Linked DNA regions of Homo sapiens: region 1 is linked to region 2. A link means that fine-mapping ties the variant in region 2 to the expression of a gene that starts in the linked region. Tissue or cell type: caudate. Region 2 holds a variant in brackets; the other region holds the start of a gene. All regions are shown on one strand. Distances are between the middles of the regions.

What was found. PIP is the estimated chance that this variant, and not a neighbour inherited with it, causes the effect.
Region 1: it holds the start of OSBPL3, and the variant in region 2 is fine-mapped to the expression of OSBPL3 in caudate (GTEx, PIP above 0.99). The same link has a PIP of 0.9 or more in nucleus accumbens and thyroid.

What each region holds. Positions count from the first base shown.
Region 1 is chr7:24,974,800-24,985,319 of GRCh38, reverse strand. OSBPL3 (oxysterol binding protein like 3) reads left to right here and starts at 5,142. Exons shown (of 23, transcript NM_015550.4): 1 at 5,142-5,434. RefSeq lists an enhancer at 3,673-3,842 and silencers at 4,983-5,492, 5,543-5,752.
Region 2 is chr7:24,927,790-24,938,309 of GRCh38, reverse strand. All of the region lies in intron 1 of OSBPL3 (oxysterol binding protein like 3), which reads left to right. Among named protein-coding and RNA genes, the nearest start is that of OSBPL3, 47 kb to the left of the region's middle. The variant C/T (reference allele first, on the strand shown) is at 5,271.

The DNA.
Region 1 (10,520 bases), 47 kb before region 2:
GGTGGTGTGTGCCTATAGTGCCAGCTACTGGGGAGGCTGAGGCATGAGAATCACTTGAACCCAGGAGTCAGAGGTTGTGACAAACCAAGATCACACTGTGGCAAGCCAGGTCTCACTAATGCAGGCCTCCATAACAACTGTTTCAGTACTGACTGAGTGGATAATTTAAATATTAAAAGCCAGTGCCCTTATACAAAGGCTGAGGTGTAAGAAAAGCCCACCAAGAGTTTTGCCTAGGCCTTTCCTGGGACTTAAAGCACGACAAAATAATGAAGGAATTCTTAACAGGACTCATTTAGGATTAAACAAGTTTTATTGTGGGTCTGAAGAAACTCCCCAGGCTTCCACAAACAAGCTTATTGGGGGGGTTGGAAGGAACTCCCCAAACTTCCATGCTTTAGCAGGAGACAAGATAAGGGTAATCATTCCAGCACCTGGACCCATTTAGATTAAGTAAATTTACTCAGGCTCCAGAGGAAGGTCTTCAGGACTCAGACCTTAGTTACAGATTAAAAGAAGTTAATTACTTATGTGTTAGATGAATGCATACTTACATGTAGACATATAACTTAGGAAGTATATAAGCTCTGGAAAACTTTGTAATTTGGAGTTGGTCTGGCGATGATCTCCAGGCCTTCTCCCCGTACCCAGTTGCAAAAATAAAAACTCTTTTCCTCCCCAGTTCATCTGCATCTCATTATTGGGCCACGAGAAATAGCAGCCCAACACTTAGTTTGGTCTGGGAACACCACCACGGCACTCCAGCCTAGGCAACAGTGAGATCTTGTCTCAAAAAAAAAAAAACAAAAAAAGAAAAGAAAAGAAAGGAAACTAAAGGTGAGCAATCTTCCTCTAGAATGTCCCAGAAATTGTAAACAGCTGATGAAAAACAATTTAGAATTAGAATAATCTGTGACTTTTAGTTGCACTGATCGTATTGACTTAAACTAAGCAGGAAATATATCTGAACCAGGAAAACTAACAATGTTGCAACTTCCTCTACAAGGATAACTTTACTGTAATAAATACATTTTTGTTCAAAAGTTAAAAACGTTAACAAAGACATGCAGGAAATGGCTCTCTGCTCCTAATTCCCAAAATAATTTCTCTCTGCTCTGAACACATTTTTGGTACCTCTTAGGACATCTTCCATTTTTTAGCTTGTGTTGTAGTTATTTATGTCCACATCTGATCTGCCCAATATAGAAAACTACAAAAGCACTGAAGGGACACTCACTGATTCATTTTTATTCACTTTAAAGTGCTTGCTAAGAATGATCCCTTACACAAAGCAGGCAATCTATATTTAATAAAGGAATTGGTGAATTTTTGAACAATCCTTGTCAAGAATTATACTAACAGTTGTAAAAGAATGCTTACAAGGTGTTCATATGCAACTAAATACTTTGATTCATTTTTCAGATAAAAGTGAAGGAGGAAGAAGATGAGTAGGGCTGTACAGGGTGGAGAGGGTGGCAACTCTGCTTTAGACAAGTGTTTTTCCCACTTTCCATAGGCAGTAGATGTGGCAAAAAGATGGCTCTTTAAGAGGAGACTTAGCCTCTGACCATTCATAGGCTGTATGATTATGGTCAAGACACTAGCAACTTTCTGGGCCTTGCTCCGCCACCCCTTCATAAAAGAAGTTGATGAAGTGATAAACAATAGTTCCTCCTCACTTGTAATCATATCAGAAGACTGACACTATTAGGGATCTTAAAGTTCATCTAGCCCCAGAATGGCAATTCAGCATTATCTTACATGCTGATCTTGGCCTATCAGTGGCAGCTTCTCGCAGTGTTGAGAACGATTCTGAGGCTCTATTTGGACTTAGCGGATAAGGCAGCCTTGACTGCCATAATGATGTCTGCTACAAGGCGGGAGGAAAGTGGCAGCAAATAAGTCAAGATGTGTCATCCCTAATTTAGCCCAATGCCTTCTCTTCACAGGAAAAAAAATGAGACCAGAAGCTTTTGAGTCTTTTGAGTTTACCATGTGCCAGGCACTATGCAAATTGCTTTTACATTCACAATTGTATTTAATCCTTAGACAACTTTAAGAAGTTAGCATTATTATCATTCCTATTTTACAGATGAGGCTTAAGAAAACAAAATTTGCCTGAGGTTCACACCTTAGAAACCCATATCCATAAGCATTTCCCTATATCGCCTCCTGCAGGCACGTACTATGTGTTATGCCAGTGGTTCTCATCAGGGGGGATTTTGCCCTCCAGAGGACTTCTGGCAAAAGTCTGGAGATTTTTTGTTGTTACAACTGGGGAGGACAGGGTGTTCCTTGAATCTAGTAGGTGGAGGCCAGAGATGCTGCTAAATGCACAAGACAGCACCCCCCCAACCTTTACCTCCAGCAGGAAAGAATTATCTCCCTAAAATGTTAATAGAGCTGAGGTTGAGAACTCTGCACTAGACTATGCGGAAATTGTTTGCAAATGGATGATCAAACTCTTCCTGTAGTCCAGCAGCTACATAAATATCTCCATTTTACAGACAAGGAAAGGTGATTGCAGAATCAGGTGGTCATCACAAGACAGGAACTGAGGTAGTCTGATTCTAGAGGCCCTCAGTTTCCTTTACTATCAAAACATGCAAACTCAAGTAGCACCCGCTTACCTATTACCAATTTCAGAAGCTAAGACCACTGTGTCACATGTGAAAAATTCCCACTGTGGTGGGCTTGTCTCCAAAGAGAAAAATTATTTGTTCAACAGTTCAAAGAAGAGGGTCTCTAGGAACTCTTAATATGGAACCACTGGTCTTTATTAGACATTCAAATCGTTATTTTAAAATAAGACGCTGAGGAGAAAGCTGATTTTAGAACATTAACAAACTTTTTCAAGAATAATTAGCTCTGCGTGGGTTTCAACTTTTATTTTTATTTTTTCCTTTTGATTTTAGGAGCTGGAGAGCCTGGAAGTTTATTTAGGAGTAGAAGAGGAAATGAAACTATGAAAAGCCACAGTACGATTCCTCCTTTACTTGGAGACAAGGCACAATGTGAATAATTCTCTCATCCTGTCCAATTAACTGCCTCAAGTACACACACACACACACACACACACACACACACACACACACACACAGAGAGAGAGAGAGAGAGAGAGAATGTACACTCTATTATTATTTGATTAGGAAGACATTAATGAAAAAGCTCGGAACGGGATGCTAAACAACAAAGCCCTATGCAAATCACTTCCTTTCGGATTGAAGGCTTGTCTCCTACAGAAAAACCAATGCTAAAGAAACAGGCGGAGAGGCTGAAGGTGGAGAGCAAAAGAAAAAGAAAGAAAATAGCTTGAACGAGGAAAGGGACTGGCAGGAGGAGGACAGAGCAAGCCTCTCTCAGAGAGAAATTACAGAAAGACGGAAGGAGGTTTGGGAAAACCCAGTCTAAGCTGCTCCGACGGCGGGGCTGGGCGTGGGCAAGGTGCCTCCTTGGACGGTCCGCGCGCCTGCCAGACGCGTCCTTCCACTACCCGTCCAGCCACCTGGCGCTGGTCGGGCTTTGCGAGGTGGTTTAGGAACCGCGGAGTCATTCGATTTGAAATCTTCTCCAATAAGCTTCTCCGTGTGCCGACGTGGGCAGCATGACAGTGGATTTGCTCGGCAGCATCTCTGGCGCCTCCCGCCCTCGCCCGCCGCCTGCCAGATCCGAAACAGACAGTCCCAGACATTTCGCGAGGGGGATGGTTCCAGAAAGCGAAGATCTGAGCGTGGTGAATGAAATGTGAACAGAATAGCTCCGGAAAGAGTCTCAGAAACCTTGAATTGGGGTCAGTTTGGAGACTGAAAATGCGTCGAGCGCTGCAGGTGGTGGTTGGCAGGGGGATTTAACACTGTGGAGCCCTTACTCCGTCCCAGGCGCTGAGCCCAGCGAGCCACGCGCGGTGCCCAGCTCGGTGAGGTCGGTTAGTTGGGTCTTCAGGGAGGCTAAATACCCTGTATTTGCTATTCCCTTCGCCTGGAACGCTCTGTGCGAGACTGGGTGTGGCAGCTCCTTTCCCAGGCTCAGGAATCTGGGTAAAAGCCACCCTCGCCTAGAGGCCCTCAGGGTGAGCGCCCCATCACGCGCTAAACCACTTTCGAAAGTGGACTTGGCCCTCCTCTCAGTACTAACAGTCTGTCAGCCTTTTATTTTTTGCATAGATATGTATTTTCTCTTCTTTATTGTCTGTCTTTCCACAAAAAATGCAAGCCCCGTGAGTACTGGAGCCTGGTGCGCCTTTCTCACAGTTGCAAGCTCGCAACTGCTCCTGGCATATACTAGGTGCTCACTAAATGCTCATGCCCTTCCCACCCGCCACCTGCGGCACTCGACACATTTGCAGTCTGCAAACTGACCCCAAACCATCAGCTGCTTGCATTCGTCCTAGGATCAAAGAAGGCCATTGGGCTAGTGGGAAGTCAAGTCGGGTGGACTTTTCCGTCTTTCAGGGAGATTTAATAGTAACGACGGTGCTCTCCCCACCTCCTACCCCCTTGCACATAAACTGCACAGAACAAAATCACCCCGGCACGAATCTGCACGACTGCCTCTGGAGGTAGGGTCACGGTCTCCGAGCCCCGGGTCTCACACTGATGCTGTCCTTTGTCATCTCGTGCCTAGAGTGCTGCCTCCCTATGTATTTCCTCTGTTCTCGACTCCTCTGCCACAGTCTGACTTTCTCGGGAGGTCGAGTTCTCCTAGCCTGTGCGACCGCAAGGGTCCCCTGGAGCCTTCTCCGTAAACCTGCCCCTCCCGCGCTGCCCTCACTTTTTCCTCCTTCCCTGGCCCGGAAAAGCCACTAGAGGAACATTTACCGAACGCCTACCGCGCGCAGGCACCGAGCTGGGCCACCGGGAGCCCCACCCAGTGCCTCGCCGCAGGACTCGCCTCCCTCCGCCCTCCCAACCCATCCGGAATCCGGGGTCCCTAGTTCCCCCGCCGCGTCATGGAATCCGCTGGCTTCTTCCGAGGACATCGCCCCACCTCCTTCCCGAAAGGCGACTTCTGATTGGTGAGATTGTGCATCACTCTGCCGCCCTCCCGCCCCCTCGGGGCCCCGCCCCTGGGCCTCTCAGGCCCCTCCCCTGCGCTCCCGCCCTTGCGCGGCTCCTCGGGCTAATCGCCGGGCGGCGCGCGCCGAGAAGTTCTGGGCAAAGTACTCAGAACTGGCCGCGTGCTGGTGGCGCCCGCCAGCCGGCCCGGGAGAGGGGACTTGAGCGCTTCGCGGCCGGTGCGCAGCGCGGCTCCGGCCCCGCAGTCTGTCTGCAAGTGGCCATCCCCGCCCCCGACTCCTGCGGCCGGTGCGGGAGCTGTCAGCTGCACGTTGCGGGGGTACCGGAGAAGCCGGGGTTGCCTTCTCCCGGTTCTGTGCGCTAACCCCGGAGCCCGGCCCCGGGGAACTAGGGAGCGTCTCCGGCTGCACAGCGCTCAGGTGAGTGGCGGGGCGCCCGCCTAAATGGGGCCTGGGTGTCGGGGGGCCTGGCGGCGGCGCGGGCTCGGAAGGGCTGCTGTTTGCGGGGCGCCGCGGTTCTCTGCCGGACCGGGGTCTGTCCGAGTCGCCCGGGGAGGCTCCGGCCCTGGGGCAGACCCAAGCCTGGGAGCTTGGGTGCCGGCTGCAGCTCCCGGGGAAGGAGGACCCGGGTCTCACCCACCCCAGGACACCTTCCCTCGAGGGACGGCTCAGAGGATTGACCGCCAGGAGGAGCCGAGCGCAGGGGCCGCGGCGCAGGTGCGGGAGGACGCGGCGCGCGGAGCTGTCCTGGGCAGCGGGGAGGCGCTACGCCGGGGCTAGAGGCTCAGGAAGCCTGGTAAATTGGGGCGAGCGCGAAGCTTTACCACATCCGCGGGATGGGGCGCGCCGGAGAGACTGAGACAACGCTCGCGGGGCAGGCGCTCCGCTCGCCCGCCTTCCCAACCCCGGCTTGCTCAGCTCCCCGGTGCTGGGCTGGAGGCCCAGGGCACATTCCTTTCTTGTCTGAATTTACATATTCATCAGCTTTCTGGCCCCTTCTGGAATTTTTTTTTTTTGTTAGTTTCCAATTACTACTGTTCAGATCACCTTCAGGCTCACCCTAACTCTCGTCTCAGTGTCTCTCACATTGGTCCTTTCCTGGAGGCCCTGCAGCGTCTTAGTTCAGGGTCTTAGGGACTTATGCACTCTGTCTGAACGTTGTCTACAGTTGGGTTTTCCTACCTCTGTCTCTGTTTATTCCGTGGTCAGGTAAATTCTTTAAGTACTGTCATCATAAGCCAGAAACTCCCAGGCAGCCTCTTAGCGCTGCCCAGCTTCCCGGGGAGCGTTTGTGGCCTCTGGAGTCGCTGATGGGCACTGTCGCAGGTCGTCCAGATACTTCTTAAGCAGGGGCGCGCCGCCCTTCCTTCGGCAACGCAACTTGCTTGCTGCCTTCTGCACACTTGTGCTTGTCCTTCTCCGCCTCACAAGCCACCAGTCTCCTCAGTCGGGACTCTTGGAGCTGAGGGGACTGTGAAGTTGTCGGTTTCCATGTGTCTGCGTACTGCGCAGAGGTGCTTGAGACCCCCTAGGTGTTGCTCTGACCCTCAGAGTTTGAGTATTGGGATGAGGGCATTTAGAAATATTTTAAACTACAGCTGCAAAAGAGATACTTCCACAGATGGGTGAAAGCGAAGGCCTGGCTTCTCATCATCTGCACTGTACCCCGCAAGTATCATACAAGGTGAGGTCCTTGGCTAAAGGACTATACTTGGCTAAAGGAGATCAGTCAAGCAGGCCTAGGTTCTTATGCATCCAAGCTAAATGACCATCCCCTCCAGCCAAGCCACATCACCCGTTTGCTGTTGCTCATAGCACTTAAATTTCTCTCTGAAATTGTCTCTTTGGGTTATTGGGTTATCTGCCTTCCCTCATTAGGATGTAAGTACCAGGAATGCAGAGACCTTGTCTGTCTTGTTCATCACTTGATCCCCTGTGTCAAGAACACGCAGTAGGTTTGCAGTAAACATTTATAGAATGAATAAATGAAACCTTCTCTGTAAATATGAGGAATGAGGATTTCATAGCTGATTTTGATTTTCATCTTTATCCTTTTTTTACTGTTGGGAAAATTAACAAATAGCAATACTAGGAACTTTTGTACATTACCGCATTAAACTTACAGAAGTCTGTTAGCTAGGTATTTTTAACCAGATGGGAAATTGAGGGTCCAGCAGGTTAACCTGTGTTGCCAAGGTTATCCTGGCAGAACTAGGATTCCAGCCCATTTTGTCTCTATTGTGCTTGACCTCTTCGAATAAACTAAAATGTGGTTTCCACCATTAGTTAATAGGCATTTAGCTTTATTTGTATCAAAAGCTATGGCTTAGCCAAAAGATTTACTGTTTTATTATTGAGATATATTTTCAGTAATCGTTAATAGTTACATCATAAGCCAGATACTCCCAGGCTGCAGTAAGCTGTAATTTTCTTTTTTCTTTTCTTTTTTTGAGACGTAGTCTCACGCTGTCGCCCAGGCTGGAGTACAGTGGCGCGATCTCGGCTCACTGCAAACTCCGCCTCCCGGGTTCATGCCATTCTCCTGCCTCAGCCTCCCGGGTGGCTGGGACTACAGGCGCCCGTCACCACGACCGGCTAATTTTTTGTATTTTTAGTAGAGACGGGGTTTCACCGTGTTAGCCAGGGTGGTCTCGATCTCCTGACCTTGTGATCTGCCCACCTCGGCCTCCCAAAGTGCTGGGATTACAGGCGTGAGCCACCGCGCCCTGCCCGTAAGCTTAATTTTCACCGTCTTGCTGGGCATTGTTGTGAGGTTATCTCCATTTTTCAGGTGAAGAATTGGAAAACGAGGTTTAGGAACTTGCCTAAGGTCACCAGTAAATTGCTGAGCTAGATTTTTTAATAGTCTGACTTCAATTCTCGCCCCACTAATTAGATGTTAACTCATGATAGAATCCAGTGATACAAATATTAAAACCATCTGAGATTGGGCTGTAAACTTTCTGGTGCTGATATCAAGTGTCTAGATGTACTGTTTTCAGAATCCCTGAGACTCTTACTGCCATTGATTTTTGTGCTTGGGTTTATGGTTTGTGGGCCTGATAGACTGGGGACTTTTAATACAGAAGGAAAGGAAATCCTCCTTTCATCTAAATCTAAAGAGAAATCTGATTTGTTTTACCCATTGTGGTAAATGAACCCTGAACAGTAATGCTTTATACCTCTTAAAGAAAGCGCTGGAAAGCCAGCTAGTTCCTCTGTTCTCTAATGCAGAGTAGAGAGTTAGAAACTGCTACTAATTCCAAAAGCTCCTGCAGTAGGCTTTCAGTAAAACAACTACATTTCAACTCTCTACTCTTACGCTGACACTGAGGGTGAGAAGTTGGGGAAGAGTGGCATGGGTACCACCTAAGGGGCTCATGGCAAAACAGAGGATGGGGAAGGAATTAGTGATTCCTTCTTTCTTCCACTTCATTCCAGTTTGGGTGCTGGTGTAACATTTCCCCCTGCATAAGAGTCTGGATAATGCAGTTTTATTTATAATGTGCTTCTCGGCAGTACTGTATTTTCCTATTTGTTAATTCTATTTCAGTAGTACTCCAGGGAGGGTTGGAGAACCCTGCAACCTAGAATGCCTGAGGAAGAGATTGAGGTGTAGGATACCAGGGAAGATGGAAACTGTTAGGTGGAAAAAGTCTTCCATGCATAATTGAGAGTTGTTTATGGTTCTCTGCACATTCCTTTCCTGTCTAAATTTACACATTCATCAGCTTTCTGGCCCCTTCTGGAATTTTTTTTTTTTGACTTTCCAATTACTACTGTTCAGATCACCTTCAGGCTCACCCTAACTCTTGTCTCAGTGTCTCTCACATTGGTCCTTTCCTGGAGGCCCTGCAGCATCTTAGTTCAGGGTCTTAGGGACTTATGCACTCTGTCCTAACATTGTCTACAGGTGGGTTTTCCTACCTCTGTCTCTGTTTTTTCCATGGTCAGGTAAATTATTTAAGCACTGTCATTATGTTGTTAAAAATTCTTGGGTGGCTTACATAGTGAATAATAACATTAATAACAGTAGTAATAGGTGCTGAACTTGTATGTGCCGGGTGCTGTCAGAAGTTCCTGTACATGCATTATTGCATTTAATCCTCAGGGCAATATCAAAGCAGGCATTGTTATTATATCTCCAGTCTCCAGATGAGGCTAGGAAAAGTTAAGTTCACAACTGCTTTGCAACTAACATATGGTGGATCTCAGACTCAATCCCCAAGTTATTTTCTCTACTTATTTGCATATAGATTCCTTAGCCTAAAGTCACGATCCAGCAGACTGGGCTCAGCTTTGGCCTCATCCTATCATTCCCCACCCCTGTGAGCTGGTAGTCTGAGTTTTATTAATCAACAAAGCGTTTTGCCTTTGTCCATGCACTCCTGTTGCCTAGAAAGCTCTCTGTTCTCTCCGTGTGAAAACCTAAGTCTTTCAAAGCTGAACTCATAAACTGCTTTTGTCAGCATAATCTCTCTAAACCCAATTTCCCAGATCATTTGTTTTTTTAAAATATGAGAAACTTCCCAGTTCAGTTTCTGATCACAAACTCTGTTGCTGATGTCCTTCCTTCCTTCAGCACTTCTTACCTTTTATCTTCCCCTATTCCTCTCACCCTGTTGCCTCCTGTGCTAGTAATGTATTCAAACTTATTGCCTCCCTTACTAGATTTTAAATGCCTTGAAGGCAGGGTGAGTGTGTATTCCTTAGGTTTCTATTCCTCACATCACTAAACATGGTGTCCTATCTATAGTAACTGCTCAATTGAAAAAAGTATTAATTATATTTGCTTAAATTTTGTTAGAGTATTCTGTGAAAAGTTAATTGGAATGTGACATTTTGTTTTCTAGTTTTCTGATTTGTTTTGATCCACAGTATTTTATCATTTTATGATGAAACAACGAATATGCCATCATCATTTTATGATGAAGCAATAGAATATGCCATCATCATTTTATGTCGAAGTAACAGAATTCCTTGTTAAGTCCATGAAAAGCACCTGTTCTGGTTGCTCTCATCTTTGGACCAAGGAGATATTGCAAGGAGATCTCAAATTCACACATGTAGTAATCATTGTCTGTAGAATAAATATTTTGCCTATGTTATGTACTATTTTTTCATATCTACGGTAATGCTGTTACTAAAAATGTACTAAAATTGTTATGGAATTCAAATGGAATTTTTGTGAATATTTTATGGATCAATGAATATTTCACATTTTAAAGCAGATTTGAAAGACCCTTTCTGAATTGGCTCCTGCTTCCCTGTCTAGACTCATAGCTCACCACTCACCATTGAGACACAATTCACATATTATACAAGTCATCCGTTTAAAGGTACAAAATTTAATGGATTTTAGTATATTCAGAGTTGTGCAACCATCACCATAATTTTAAAACATTTATCACCCTCTAAAAAAGTTTGCACCCATTACCAGTCATTCCCCATACTGCCCGTCCATTCCCCTAATCCCCACCCACTAATTTACTTTATGCCTGTATGG
Region 2 (10,520 bases):
TGGTGAGGGCTGCCTGCATCATAGATGATGCCTTCTTTGTGTCCTCACGTGGTGGAAGGCAAGACAGCTCTCTGGGCTCTCTTTCATAAGGGTATTAATCCCATGCAAAGGGGGAGCCCTCATGACTTGATCACCGCCCAAAGGCTCCAACTCCTAATACCATCAGGTTGGTGATTAGGTTTCAACATACCAGTTTTGGCGGGACAGAAACTTTCAGCCCATAGCAAATAAGCCCTTGTATATTTAGGCCACCATTTGGAGATAAGGAGGAAGTATCTTATCGGTTGCAGTTAAATGTAGTTCCTAACAGATATTTCTACTTTTGTTACCCAAGCAGAACACTCCATAGTTTTCTTCTCTGTCCTTCACTGTCCACATCCTAATTCATGGATTATACTTTGGAAATACCTTTCGATTCTGGAAGCATAATATAAAACCAGAACAAGAATATCGTTTCTACACTCACAAATTTGTTCAAATTAAATAGTTTGACTACACCAAGTATGGGCAAAGACATGTAAGATGGGAGCTCATGTTTTATTAATGGCAATATCATTTGGAACAACCAGCTTGGAGAATGATTTGGTAATAAGTAATTAGTTAGGTTTAAGGTGTTTCATGTTTTATGCCTGATAGCACCATAAACCTCCAGTTCTATTTCCAGATATGTAAAAGTGTGGCACATGTATTGGGACGTCTCATGTATGCTCTGTTCACTGCTGTATTGTTTGTTAGAGAAAAACATTGGAAGCAACCTAAATGTCCATGAGTAAGATGGATAAATAACTATAATGGACTCAGTAAATTAAATTCTATAAAGCAGAAAGAACTAAAACTATATGTATCCTTATGGGTAAACCTCAAGAATAATGTTGAACATAAAAGTCAAATTGGGGATTATATACAGAATGAGCCCATTCATAATAGTTAAACAATTGAAATAAAAATTTACTGATATGGTTTGGCTGTGTTCCCACCCAAAGCTGCTACAAAACTTGAATTGTAGTTCCCATAATCCCCACGTGTTGTGGGAGGGACCTGGTGGGAGAAAATTGAATTATGGGAGAGGTTCCCTCCATCCTGTTCTCATGATAATAAGTTAGTTCTCACTACATCTGATGGTTTTATAATATAAGGGCCTTTTCCCCCTTTTGCTCGGCATTTCTCCTGCCGCCATGTGAAGAAGGACATGTTTGCTTCCCCTTCTGCCATGATTGTAAGTTTCCTGAGGCTTCCCCAGCCATGCTGAACTGTGAGTCAATTAAACCTCTTTCCTTTATAAATTACCCAGTCTTGGGTATGTCTTTATTAGCAGCACAAGAATGGACTAATACAGTATCCTTTTCTATGACAACTGCTGTTGCTGCCTCTAGTCAGGACCTCATTGTTTTTCACCCGGTATATAGTTTTAAGAGCTCAATAATTTATCTTCCTATTCCATTCTCTCATTCCAACTCACTTTTGATACTGATACCAGTCTAGTCCTCTGTTTAAAAGCCTTTGAGTTTCCTACTGCATATAGGATAATGCAGGCAAACTTTTATCATGTTATTCACGATTGTTTCCAGAATCATATCCCTTCACATCTTCCCTAACTTCTACATACCTGTTCTCCAGCAGGCCCTCAAAGTATTTGTGCCTGCAGGCAGTCTCTGTGACTAGAGTGACTCTTTCCCCTATTTTCATTTTCTCTTTGCCACCTGGCAGAAGCCCAAATAGGAGGTTTCAAGGCCCACAGCTAGGGTCCTTCCTTTCTCAGAGTCATTCTGCTTTCCCACTCCTAGACAGAATTGGCTGTTTACTTCTCCATATACTCCCAGGACTTTATTCTCATTGGTGGTGTTAAGAACTTGGCCCATTGTATTGCATTGCAGTTTTGACCTTGTTAAGAGCAAGATCTTTGTCTTGTGCATGTTGAGGTCTTGGAGAACCTTTGCATAATTTTAGTACATAGTCTGTGGTCATTAAAGGTTATATTGAAAGAACGTATTCATGTTTGTGGATTGTGAGAGGAAAAGTTAGCCCTAAGTAACAGCCTGTATTCACTGTCTCAGCTTCCTTTGAAATATTCGCATATGTTCTTACTTACTCACTCAGCTTCATGGGGAAGAACTTTTCAAGTTTATCTTTTACTGGAACCAGTAACTTAAGGCCCCTTCATTATGAAGTTGATAGAGGTTGTGTTTTAGGGGAGTGATACAAAAGATGGTAGTTTTCAACCAGAAGAAATCTTAAGAATGAATTAAATGGTGATAAAAAAAAAAGATTCCTGGGGAGGGGGGAGGGATAGCTTTAGGAGATATACCTAATGCTAAATGACAAGTTAATGGGTGCAGCACACCAGCATGGCACATGTATACATATGTAACTAACCTGCACATTGTGCACATGTACCCTAAAACTTAAAGTATAATAATAAAAAAAAAAGATTCCTTCTTCGAGAATATACAGAACATACCTTTTTTTTGGTCTTTTTCTCTGCTTTATTAAAGCAACTCATACTCATTGCAAAATAGATGCCAGAATACATAAAATAGAATTTGTAGAAGAAAATTAAATATTGGTGTTCCCCCACCCCACCCCCAGGCACATAGAGACACATGTGAGAATTGAATCATTCTATAAATATTGTTTTGTAACTTTTAAAAAAACCTAATGTGCCATCAATCAATAGAACTTTTCATCATTCTTTTTAGATATAAGCATACTTTATAATCTAAATTGTATAACTGAAGTATATGGCCTAACCACCACCCAGGTCAAGATATAGACCATTTCTAGTAGTGTAAAAAGTTCCCTTGTAGTTTTCTCTGTGGTGATGGACAATTCTGTATCTTGTTTGTGGTGGCGATTACATAAATATATATGAGATAACATTTTATGGAAATATATACAATACATATATACACATACACACAAAGTGAGTACATGTAAAAATTGGTGAGTTTCTGAGTAAGTTCTGTAGCTTACCATAATCTGAGTAAACTGTGTAGCCTAATTGTAGTGTGCCAATATTAATTTCCTGTTTTTGATTGTAGTTATACATAAGATGTTACCATTGGTGGGTGCTGAGTGAAGGGTACACTGGACCACTCTGCAGTATTTTTGCAACTTCTTGTGAATATATATTTCTTCAATTAAAAAGCCTCCCTCATGCCTGTTTTATCATTTTAATGGATGTCTTATAGGTTATTATGTAGTTGTACTACAAATTATTTATCAAATTTTCTATGCATTGAGATGTTTTCCTTTCTTTACTAGTACAAACAACCTTATGATGAGCAACCTTGTACATATTTTTTGAAAGGGGGCTTAAAGGAAAAGCCACTAAAAGTTCTTGTGAGTCATTTTAAATGGCTACATACAATTTTTAAGAAAATGCATTATGTAAAATGAAACAAACCCATGCAGTAGAAATAATTAAGTCCCCCAGAAAGAAGGCATTTCAGCAAAATTATAATTTCTGGCGTTTCCATCTGCCTGTTGCCAAAAGTCCAAGGATGTTGAATCCCAAGCCAAGGAACAGAAGACATAACTGAAAATTGGCCTAATTCAAACCTGTGTCATTATATCACTTCTGAAGGGTGAAATATTTCCAGAAAAGATCCATTCAAAAGTAAGCTGTATGACAAACTCTATTTTACAGCATTTATTTAAAGGATAAAGCCGTCTAAGTAGTTATGCTGAGTTTCCTTGATATGGTTCATCCTGATTTCTAATCCGATTTTGAGAAGATCAGCTTGCATGATAGACTTCTTGAAACCCTAATGTACTTTGTGCTACTCCCTAGTGGTTGGGGGCCAAAAGATAGATATGTTTTTGATAACACATGCAGTATATGAGGGTTGTTTTCCATTTAGGCACAGCAGGTACTCTATTCTCTACCAGTAAATGAAGGTGTTTTGTTTTGTGTTGTTGACACTGTTCATTTCACTTATGTTCTATTCCCGGCTATTATTGTGTCTTTGATCTGAGGAACTCGGTTATCTGTCATTAAAGCTTAAAACTCAGACACAAGAAAGGATTATAATGAAAGGGTTATTGCTTCTGAGACATCCAGCAAAGCAGGCTTACACTTGTCAATAAGATCAGTGTTGAACATGCCATATCTGTGTAATATTTGAATAAAAATTTGTTGAGATGATTGATACTGGTGTTTTTAAAATGAGGCCTGTATTGAAGTGGTGAGATTTAATTTTTCATGTAAAAGACTGCTCCAATATGACCTTATTTTCCATCAGTTACAAGCTTGAACTCTTGGCTCCAGCTGAGAAAATTAACTTCCTATCAGATTCCTATTTTAGAGCTATTACACACATGGTCTATCTGCATTCTTAAACTTTGCTTTTCTAATGTCATCTATAAAGGTATTTATAGACTAAACTGATTTAATGCCAACAAATCTTAGTATTTGTTGTTTTACTCTATTTATGCTAAGTGGCATAGCTCTTGTGTATATATGTTTCGCTGTATATTTGACTGAAATTCCAAACTTTGATAGCAAAAGCAGATAGTAACTTTGGGAATTACCCATTGGTTTGCTTTTCTCATAACTAATTATTTAAATATCAACTTATGATCAGAACTGAGAGCATAGGCAAATACTTGCCTCAACTGGAGTTTAAGATAAATAAATGATAGAAATGCAACATTTCTTTTTTACACAAGCTTAGAGTTTTGCTCAATTACTAGTTTTTCTTGGGAATGGAAGCATAATCGGAAATATTAATGATTTAAGTGTTTTGCATGGTAGGGTGAATCTTGTTTGGGGTTTAGACTAGCTTGAGACTGTTAATAAAGTTTTCTCGATGTTTTTCTGGATTTTTTTTGTTCTCCTGATGTTGGGCATCTTTTTAAATATTCATAAACTTAACATATTGTTATGTCCATGAAATTATTCAGTAACAAATCAGAGTCCATTGAGAGAGAAAATGTTCTAAAGGGTGTATGTTGGCAAGGTTGCTTTTTACCTTCATGGGTTGGTTCTTTTTTTGACTCTAGAGCAGTGTTACTAAATTGTCAAGCTGAAATGCCTCTTATTTGACTGCCTTTTTGGGAGTTTGCAGGTGGTACTCATGATCTTTTCTCCTTTGAACACGTGTAATTGAATGTCCCTGTCCTCTTTATTCCCCATTTTAACCTTGAGCAGCGAACCCCCCTCTCAGCTGGGTCCCAGTTCTGCAGGCGTCTGCGTGCGTGGCCTGTTATTACTCTCTGAATCACTGCTGGCCTTATTAAACTATTTTGGGCAGCAGCCCTTCCATTCTCCT[C/T]CTGTGAACCGTGAAGACTGGAGTTGGTGCAGCAGCATCAGGTCCGGTGTGGAATTTGAATATGGAGGAAAGACGGTTCACTGGTTTGTAACATGGCATTCTGCCTTACAGAACAGTGGGGGTCTGTCCCCGGGGACCAGTTGGAGTCTTGAAAGTTTTTGTTTCTTTTAAAAAGTGATCTTAGAAAGATCGTTCCTGAATGCCCAACATTTCAAATGCTTGAATATAAGGCAGTTTGGTCTTTGCCCCTGTCTTAGTCCATTTGGGCTGCTCTAACAAAATAGCATAAACTGGGTGGCTTATAAACATCAGAAATTTACTTCTCGTAGTTCTGGAGGCTGGAAAATGCAAGATCGAAGTACTATTGGATTTGGTGTCTTGGGAGGCTCGTTTTTTGGTTGGTAGACAGTGCCTTTTTGCTGTGTGCTCACAGGGTGGAAGGGACAAGGCAGCTCTGTGGGGAATCTTTAAAAGGGCACTAGTCCCATTCATGAGGGCTCTGCCTTCATGACCTAATCACCTCCCAAAGACCCCACATCCCAATGCCATCAAATTGGTGACTAGGTTTTAATGTATGAATTTCAGGGGGACATCAACATTCTCACCAGAGCACCCCCTTTTCCCTTTCATTTTCTCTAGGATGTTTATGATCCTGGTTTGTGTTGGTGGTGTTCTCTTGCTCTTGCATTCTAACCTATCTCAGACCCCTGGGCGCACAGCTTGAAACTTGACCGGGGAATGCTGCAAGTACACTGGATAAAAAGGTGATCTTCAGTCCGAAATGCCTGCATTCAAATTCCAGTGATGGTGGACAAATATGACCTTGTTAAGCCTCAGTTGCCGAAGCTTTAAAGTGGGACAAATGTGCCCATTCATTTCTTATTAATTAAATAAGACATGGTTTATGGGAACTGGTTTATGGGAAAACTGACCACTGGTTTGAACCAGTCTGTAGGGAAAGCCCTCTGGCCTTTGTTAAGGAGAGATTATCATTCATCTAGTCTACATGTTTTGTTTTACAGATCAGTCACTGAGACCCAAAGGGGTTGTGTTTACGCGATGACACAGCTGTATGTGGGAGAGTGAGGATGAGAGCCCAGGTTTTCTAACTCCTAATGTTTTTCCATTAAGCCTCAGCTTCCCCATATATTGCTGGCTCAGGACCACATTTGAGACAGTATCAGTCTTGTTGATGCAAGTGTTTGTTGTTCATCAGAAAATGCTTTTTCACATGCTGTTTCATACTTCTCTTTATTTCCTTACATCCCCTTCCTTTTTTTTTTCTTTTAGGAAAGACTATATTAGTTGCCTATTACTGCTATAGCAAATTAAGTTGCTTTAAGCTTAAGTTGTTTAAATTTATGACTTAAACTAACACAATTTTATTTTCTTTCAGTTCTGGAGGTCAGAAAACTAAAATCAGGTGTCAACGGGCATTGTTCTTTTGGAGGCTTTTGTGGAGAATTCACTTCCATGCTTTTTCTGTCTTCTAGAGGCTGCTTGCATTCCTTGGCTCATGGCTTCACATCACATCTCCTTTTCTTCCTCTGTTTCCATCATCACATTGCCTTCTACATCTCCTGACGCCCTCTTATAAGGACCCTTGTGGTTAGATCAGACCTCCCAGGACAATCCAGGATAATCTCCCCATCATATCTGAGAAGTCCCTTTTGCCATATAAGGTACATTCAGTGCTTCTGGGGGTTAGAACATGGACATATTTGTGGACCATTATTCTGCCTACCACAGACAGGCACATAACTTATAACCCAGAGTTCCCAAATTATCTCTTTTCACCTATAGTTCTGAATTTTTTTCCAAATTAAATAACACTTTTCAGTCTGCTCACAAACATTTTTGTTAGCCATTCATACTCCTCCCTCTGTGCCCCACAATGAATACCTCCTTTTAGAAAAGACCTATTCTAGAAATGGAAGGAACTGACACCACCCCCTCAAATGACTGTTCAGACTTGTTGGCTTACCTTGATGTTCAGGAAGCAATGGTTGGGAAATGGATGTCTGGGAGCATCTGTCTTCCCACAGCTCACTTTTTGCCTCTGAACACGTACTTCCTGTGAGAATGTTAAATAATTTTTGGAATTAAAAAAGTCATCTTCACATTCTACCATGTATGTATTTGGCATTTGGATTGGAGAGAGGTTTGCCTACTTGTTTTTGGATATAGGTCAAGTTTCAGTGACAAAATCTCATTGATGAATTCATTTAATCAGAAATCCTTCACCTCAACCTAGGTTCTTAAACCCTTAAAGACTCCACAGAAGGCTTTCAGAGAGCCAGACCCTTTGGGACTGTGCAAAACCATATAATCATTTCTGGAAAGACTGGACCATAACTTTCATTAAATTTTTTAAGAGGTTAACCTGGAAAGGTTAATGACCAACTGAATTGATGGCTTTATTCTTCATTTCCCCCTTAGGTAAGAGGCCCTTTGAAGTACACTGCATATGTATTTTTAATATGTGATCTTTTTTTAGCTGCAACTCAGTGTCCCCCATTCCTATTGAAATAGACCTCCCACTGAAACCTGTGTCTTTTTTGCTGTCAGCAATAAAAAGTTTACTTTTTTTTTCTTGGCATATTTTGAGATATCTTTAGAACAAGAGATGGGAAACCTTTGTTAAGTGTAATCTTAATCTTGGATAGGCAGTATAAAATTTGTTTGTTTAGACAGGAATTGACAACAAAAAGTGTTGAGTTTTTCCCATGTATTCCTACAAACACCAGATGTTTTATTTGCACATTTTTTTTATTTTAGTGCATATTTCCTTGGAACTGAAAAAACTAGTTTCCTTCAGTTTTGCCATGCATTTCTGCCTCACCTTTGATCATTAGTTAATTAGAAGAATAAAGCCATCAATTCAGTTGGTCATTAACCTTTCCAGGTTAACCTCTTAAAAAATCATTAGTTACCCTTTCTTCTAACTCCTAAAGTTTTCTCATAAAGAATGTATGATATTTTCCTTCCTTTATCATTAACGATGCCTTCACCTTTACTTTACCCTTACCTTGCTCTATGAGAACCCAGAGAGGTGAAGACTAACTTTGGGGATTTGGTTGGTTTTTTTTACATTGCTAGATATACGAGGCTGAACAATAGTAAAGAGATATTGTATAAGCATACAGCAGATATCAAATGAAATCCAAAGATTTGCCAATTGATTCACTCCACAATTTAAAGCTTAGTGAGCAAAACATACATGACCAAGGATGATTACTTATGCTTTTGGAATCAGAAACGTTTTTTAAAAACAGGTACAATTTGGAATTAAACTCAGATGACTATAAACGGAATGCATTAATGTTCACATCAAAGTTCATGATTTGGCAAATTAGCTTGGAAGCAGCAGGCAAGGAGGGAGCCTTCCATTGAATGGAACTCCTTTCTTGATGAATTCTTATTCCTTAAAAAAAAAGTGTGGTATTTGGGAGAGAATTATAGCATGAAATAGAATATATTAATATACAAATTCTCTTTGAAACCTGTGGGACAGTCTGTAAAAAAAAAAGTGCTAAACTATTATGAAAGTACTGCGATATTTTTGGTAAAACTTATTGATGTTCATTTTTACTTAGTACAAGAATTTAAGCCTCATTTGGCTCAATTAACTATTTTATCAATAGGGAAGAAATGAGGTGGGATAGATGGTCTTTACGGCGTTAGCAACTATTTAATGACAAAGTTGGTGATAAAATTTACGACAACGACCCTGATCCAGCGACCTTTCAGTATACCACATTGCCTGTGTTCCTTAGAAAGAGGAAAAAGTTACACACTGAACGAAACAGATTTCAGACCTTCTAAATTAAACTACAGTGAGGCACACCTGCACACCCATCAGCATGACTAAAATGTAAAAGACTGACAATAGCAAATGTTGGCTAGGATGTGGAGCAACTAGAGCTGTCAGACATGGCTGGTGGGAGTATAAAGAGGTGCAGCTACTTTGGAGAGCAGTTTGGCAATTTCTAAAGCTAAACACGCTTACCCTCTGGCCCGTCGTACTGCTTCTTTGTATTTACCCAAGAGAAAGGCCTGTAATACAAATGTTAATAGCAGCTTGATTGTAACAAGTAAAAACTGGAAACAACTCAAATGTTCATCAGCTGGTGAACAGATAAATTGTGGTGCATTTATACAACAAAATGCTACTCAGCAGCAAAAAAGAAGGGACCACTGATATTAGCAACAACATGGCTGAAACTCAGAAACATCATATTGAGGTGAAGGAGCCATAAAAGAAAAGAGCATATTCTGTATGATTCCATTAATACAAAGTCCTAGAACAGGTAAAACCAGATGGTAGTGATAGAAATCAGAGGCATCAGGGTTAGAGTTGACTGCAAAAGGGCATGAGGGAGCTCTTTGGGTGAGGGAATGTTCTTTGAGGTGTTGATTGAAGCGATGGTTACATAGGCATATACATTTGCTCCAAACTCATCAGTCTGTACACTTAAAAGGGGTGCTGTATTCTCTTACTGCTATACAGAAATACCCTGAGACTGGGTAATTTATAAAGACAAGAGGTGGCCGGGCACGGTGGCTGATGCCTGTAATCCTAGCACTTTGGGAGGCCAAGGTGGGCAGATCACGAGGTCAGGAGATCGAGACCATCCTGGCTAACACGGTGAAACCCCGTCTCTACTAAAAAGACAAAAAAGTAGCCGGGTGTGGTGGCGGGCGCCTATAGTCCCAGCTACTCGGGAGGCTGAGGCAGGAGAATGGCGTGAACCTGGGAGGCGGAGTTTGCAGTGAGCTGAGATCGTGCTGCTGCACTCCAGCCTGGGTGACAGAGCGAGACTCCATCTCAAAAAAAAAAAAAAACAAAAAGGAAGGTTTAATTGGCTCACCATTCTCAGGCTGTACAGGACACATGGTTCGGGAGGCCTCAGGAAACTTACAATCATGGCAGAAGGCGAAGGGGGAGCAGACACATCTTTCATGGCCTGAGCAGGAGGAAGGTAGAGAGGAGGAGGTGCTACACACTTTTGAACAACAAGATCTCACAATACTCACTATCATGAGAACAGCACCAAAGGGGAAATTTATCTCCATGATCCAATCACCTCCCACCAGGCCCTACCTCCAACACTGGAGATTAAAATTTGAGCAGGGACACAGACCCAAACCGTATCAGGTGCATTTTATTGGATATAAATTATACCTCAAGAAGCATTTTTTTTCTTTACAAAAAGAGATAGGGTAGTGAGAAGCTAAGGTGTGGAACAG